2 separate regions of the Homo sapiens genome follow, and region 1 is linked to region 2. A link means that fine-mapping ties the variant in region 2 to the expression of a gene that starts in the linked region. Tissue or cell type: whole blood. Region 2 holds a variant in brackets; the other region holds the start of a gene. All regions are shown on one strand. Distances are from middle to middle.

Evidence for each region. PIP is the estimated chance that this variant, and not a neighbour inherited with it, causes the effect.
Region 1: it holds the start of CDKN1C, and the variant in region 2 is fine-mapped to the expression of CDKN1C in whole blood (TOPMed, PIP above 0.99).

The regions. Positions count from the first base shown.
Region 1 is chr11:2,884,742-2,887,416 of GRCh38, reverse strand. CDKN1C (cyclin dependent kinase inhibitor 1C) reads left to right here and starts at 1,642. Exons shown (of 4, transcript NM_001122630.2): 1 at 1,642-1,783; 2 at 1,951-2,675. The coding sequence starts at 1,961. SLC67A1-AS (SLC67A1 antisense RNA) reads left to right here. Exons shown (of 3, transcript NR_169305.1): 3 at 1-73. RefSeq lists enhancers at 145-980, 981-1,816, 1,817-2,652.
Region 2 is chr11:2,835,996-2,838,670 of GRCh38, reverse strand. All of the region lies in intron 15 of KCNQ1 (potassium voltage-gated channel subfamily Q member 1), which reads right to left. Among named protein-coding and RNA genes, the nearest start is that of KCNQ1-AS1, 24 kb to the left of the region's middle. RefSeq lists an enhancer at 1,968-2,675. The variant C/T (reference allele first, on the strand shown) is at 1,447.

The DNA.
Region 1 (2,675 bases), 49 kb before region 2:
AATTGTGACATCTGGGCTTGTTGCGGGAAATTTGTAAATTGTGCACAGAGAAGAATATGAAATTGCACATAAATCATGGCTTTTGGTTCCACCATCAAGAGCCAAGAATGGCCCTGGCCCCTCTCCTGGGTTAACGCCCTGTCCCATCCAGTTCACCCCCCTCACTTCAGATCTCGCTTCCCTGAGACCCAGAAGACCCGCCCTGCTCCCCCAGCTGCAGCTGCACACTGCCACAGCATTCCATGGGGGTGGGGGTGTCTTGGGACTCAAAGGCAGGCTGGTTGGGGTTCAGGGGACCGCACCTTCCCTCCCTCCCAGAGGTCTCTCTGCTGGCTCACAGGCTCACCTGAGATAGGGGCTTAGATCTCATGGGCTGCTGGACCCTCCAACAGGTGTCTGACAGTCCCCATCCCGATCTGGGAGGCTCCTGGTTTGAGGAGGGGGCTCCCTGCCTCATGGTAGGTGGGCCAAAAGGGAGGCAGCAGGAAATAATGGTCTCTTTTGGTCTGGCCTGGCTGGGGTGAAGCACCGTGTGTGTGCGTGCGTGTGTGTGTGTGTGTGTGTGTGCGTGCGCGCACGACCGAGGTCTGTACCAGGAAGGGCTGCAGGCGGGGGAGGGGCATGGTCCTTCACAGCCCCTTCCCCTATGACCTCGGGCAGATCTTTCACTTTTACCCAGTACAACAGCTTCCAGCCAGCCTGGACAGGCAGATCCCGGGGCTGGAGTGGTCTGGCCCAAGGCTGAGAAGGGCTGGGACCCCCGACAGTGACATGATGGGCTCAGCCCCTGTTCCATCTACTGGGCAGGGTGGGCCTCCGCAGATAGCGGCTTCAGACTCCAGCTCCAGGGGGCTGGTGGGAGTCTCTCAAGGTGTCCCACACATGGTCCCTCGGGGAAAGAGTGGAGCTGACCCCTGTCCCCCCTCCCGACTCGAGGGCCTTAGGGCCAGCAGGTGTGTGAGGGCTCCAGGCGCGCGGAGCCCTCGAAGGGACACCAGCCCAGCAGCAGCAGGCCGCGCGGGGGCAGCCGAAGACCCCATCCGGCGCAGGCCAGGGCCGAGCTGGCAGCGGCGGGTCCAAGCCTCGTCAGCTGGCGCAGGAGGCCCACGGGCGAGCGCGGGACGGAGCTGGGCGCCGGGGTCCGGACCGGGCCGGGGTCGAGTTGGGCCTGGCCGGACACCGGACCCGCCAGGAGCCGGCCCCTGCCGCGCTGGGCTGAGGCCCCCGCCTGCAGACAAAGGAGCCGGCGGGGGGCGGGAGCCGGGGGGGTGGGGGAGTGTTGCAGGGGGGATGGGGCGAGGGGGCGGGCGTCGCGGTGTCACGTTACCGCCCGCAGCGCCCTTTAACTCCCGCCCCCGCCCCGCTCACCGCCCCCTTCCCCTGCTACAGCGCGCTCGCCCCGCGGCCGCCAATCAGCCGCGCGCCCCGGCCGCGCGCCCCGCCCCGCCCCCGGTGGGTGTGCGCGCGGCCAATGGGCGGTGCGCGGGGGCCGGGCCGCGGCGGGGCGGGGCAGCGGGGCGGCCGCCAATCGCCGTGGTGTTGTTGAAACTGAAAATACTACATTATGCTAATCGCGGCCGGGCCCGCGCGCACGGGGGTGGGGCCCGCGCGTATAAAGGGGGCGCAGGCGGGCTGGGCGTTCCACAGGCCAAGTGCGCTGTGCTCGAGGGGTGCCGGCCAGGCCTGAGCGAGCGAGCTAGCCAGCAGGCATCGAGGGGGCGCGGCTGCCGTCCGGACGAGACAGGCGAACCCGACGCAGAAGAGTCCACCACCGGACAGCCAGGTAGCCGCCGCGTCCCTCGCACACGCAGAGTCGGGCGGCGCGGGGTCTCCCTTGCGCCCGGCCTCCGCCCTCTCCTCCTCTCCTTTCCCCTTCTTCTCGCTGTCCTCTCCTCTCTCGCTGCCCGCGTTTGCGCAGCCCCGGGCCATGTCCGACGCGTCCCTCCGCAGCACATCCACGATGGAGCGTCTTGTCGCCCGTGGGACCTTCCCAGTACTAGTGCGCACCAGCGCCTGCCGCAGCCTCTTCGGGCCGGTGGACCACGAGGAGCTGAGCCGCGAGCTGCAGGCCCGCCTGGCCGAGCTGAACGCCGAGGACCAGAACCGCTGGGATTACGACTTCCAGCAGGACATGCCGCTGCGGGGCCCTGGACGCCTGCAGTGGACCGAAGTGGACAGCGACTCGGTGCCCGCGTTCTACCGCGAGACGGTGCAGGTGGGGCGCTGCCGCCTGCTGCTGGCGCCGCGGCCCGTCGCGGTCGCGGTGGCTGTCAGCCCGCCCCTCGAGCCGGCCGCTGAGTCCCTCGACGGCCTCGAGGAGGCGCCGGAGCAGCTGCCTAGTGTCCCGGTCCCGGCCCCGGCGTCCACCCCGCCCCCAGTCCCGGTCCTGGCTCCAGCCCCGGCCCCGGCTCCGGCTCCGGTCGCGGCTCCGGTCGCGGCTCCGGTCGCGGTCGCGGTCCTGGCCCCGGCCCCGGCCCCGGCTCCGGCTCCGGCTCCGGCCCCGGCTCCAGTCGCGGCCCCGGCCCCAGCCCCGGCCCCGGCCCCGGCCCCGGCCCCCGCCCCGGCCCCGGCCCCGGACGCGGCGCCTCAAGAGAGCGCCGAGCAGGGCGCGAACCAGGGGCAGCGCGGCCAGGAGCCTCTCGCTGACCAGCTGCACTCGGGGATTTCGGGACGTC
Region 2 (2,675 bases):
CGGCCCTGCTGCCCCCACATCCTCCCCTACCCTGGGCCCTCAGCCACTTGCTGGGCCATCTGGAACCTCTGAGCGCACCAGCCCCTAGGACCCCAGCAATACCCCTCGCTGTCCCCGGAAGTCCACAAGCAGACCTTAGATACTTCCTCTCGCCTCCCTTCCCCAGCCCAGCAGGGTGGCCCCATACCACTGGAAGTCAGACCCCTGTCAGTCATAGGCTCTAACCCTCAGTGGCTCCGGATCAATGCCAGAGTCCGCTCACAACCCTGTGGTCTGGCCCAGCCCCCATCCCTGGCCTCACTCTGCAGCCTGCTTCCCGGCGCGCCGGTCCCTGGCCCCCAGCCCCAAGCCTGCTTCCTTCTTTCTGCATGCCGTTTCACACTCCTCCAGGTGCCTGACGGGCATGTGGATAGTTTGGCACCTGTCCCCCGACCCTGCCAGTGGCTGTGAGCCACGTGAGGTCAGTCTGGCTTCCTTCCATCCCCACCTCTGTCTGCCTGGTCCCTACTGGTGGTGTTTGCTTCTCAGAAGTAGGTCCCCTTCCTGAAACTGCCCTTGGCGTGCAGCAGGTATACCCTAAATATTCCTGAATTTGGGACGGGACGTTTCTGGGCTGGCTTCCTCAGTCTGTCCCACGTTGCCACCATTTTTCTCTAAGACAGAGGCCTCTGGGGCCCATGACCCCCTCTCCTTCCTGCAGACAGAGAAAGCACCGGCACCTGCTGATCTCCCACACCACAATGTCCACTTGCTGGGCGAGAACCTTTGAGGCATCCCTGCTGTTCTCGAGATACCAGCCTCGGCTGAGGGTCCCTCGCCGCCGGCCCCTGTGGCCCCCTGGGCGCCGCCCTTCTCGCCCCAGAGCCGGTTTCCTCTGGTTCCTACCTCAGGACCCTCACATGGGCTGGCCCTGCCTCCTGGAGCATCCACCCCTCTCCTTAGCCTCCAGACCCTTCTCATTCTCCAGGCCCCAGGTGAGGGTCTCCTTGGTGAGGCCCCCTCCCTTCCCCCTCCTGGTTTGGCTGTGGCCACTTCCCCTGCTTTCCATCCCCCACCTCTGTCTGCCCGGTTCCTGCTGGTGGTGTGTGCTTCTTAGAGGCCGCCTCCCCGAGGGCAGGGCACTGCACAGCCAACAACAGTTCAATGGCCTCTTGCTCGCTGGGAGACCCTGGGCCTTGGTCACCTCTCGAGCAGGGAGGGGCCGGGGAGTCTGTTCTGTGGCACAGTGCAGCCTGGGGGCTCAGGCCCGGGCGTGTCTGGGAACGGAGGCTGTGAGCGCGGAGCGGGCTCTCCTGGGCCCCAGGCCACTCCCTGGGCCTGAAGGGAGGGGCTCAGGGGAAGGATGAGGCCCCTCGTCCCCAGCTCCCTGGGCACCACTGAGAGGCCTCTGGCCACCTCCGTCCCTCAACATTGGCCACGCCCACAGCCTGCTGTGTTCTGTCTCCA[C/T]CCAGGCCTCTCCCCGGGCGCTCTTGGCTGTCCCTGCTGGCTCAAGACGGTGTCCTCTCTCTGGACACTCGAGAGGCTGCCCAGGGTGCTCCCAAACACGCACACCATGTGAGCCTCTTCCTCCGCCCTACGTGCCCCATCCTGCCCATCCCCAGGAGAGGGCTGCCATGCCCCGTGCCCCCAGCCCACGGGCTCTCTGCGGCTGGGGTGCTTGTCTTCCTGAACCCTTTCTGTGAACGCCTCACATGTTTGCTTCAAAATTAGTCTGTGTACAGGGTTTTTCATGGTATAAGTACCCTATGAAGACGTTCTCCCGCCAAATAAAGACATTTCAAAGACACATCTCCATTTCACCTGCCCCATTTCCCTCTAGGGCCCCTGCCTGCCAGGTAACCAGCTTAGGGATCTGATGTTTCTCCTTCCAGCAACTTTGATACGCAGCTCGTGCCTGGTTCTGCCTGGTCAGCGAGGTTTAGCACGAGTGAGGCGAGGCGTGATGTGACACACATGTGGCTCTCCACTGCTTGTTTCCATGCGACACACTTGTGGAGGCTGCACGTAGAATCACGGGGACAGTGCTGGCTCCTGGGACGGCTGTGCAGCCCTCCTTTCTGTGGGGATTGCTGACATCACCACCCAGTCCCTGCTGGTGGGCGTGGAGGCTGAGGGCTCCACAGGCCAAGTCTTTCTGCCTACATGTGCTGGTGTTCGGGGGGAGGGGTCCCCTCTTCTGGGGAGCTTGGTGGCAGCAGCCAGGCTGTGCTCTCCCACCTCCTCCCCTTGGAGTGCAGTCCGGCCTCACCCTCTACCTCCTGGGTGAAAACTTCTACCTCCGGCCTGAAACGTCACCATGCCTCCCCACAGACAGACGGATGGACAGATGGGCCTCCCTGCACCTGCTCTGTGGGTGTGGGGGCTCCTGCTCAGCAGCAGTTTCCAGACCCTTCTCCCTGCTTTCCCCAAGCCACCCGCCTTGAATCTGGGGTGCTCTACCAGACCCATCCCCTCATTTCTAAAGATTTGAGCCACTAGTCGTGTCCCTCTCCCTCAGAAATGCCTTGGTGACACTTGGCTGCTTTCAACTCTTCCACCCATCTGCCTCTTGGTCTCATCTTTACCTTCTGCTAAAGGTCCTGACCCCCACCCCCGCCACGCCACGGGGCACCCCATGGTGGTGCGTCCTTGGGAGCAGCTCTGTCCCTTTCCCCGTGGCCTTTGCCCCGCCTCCT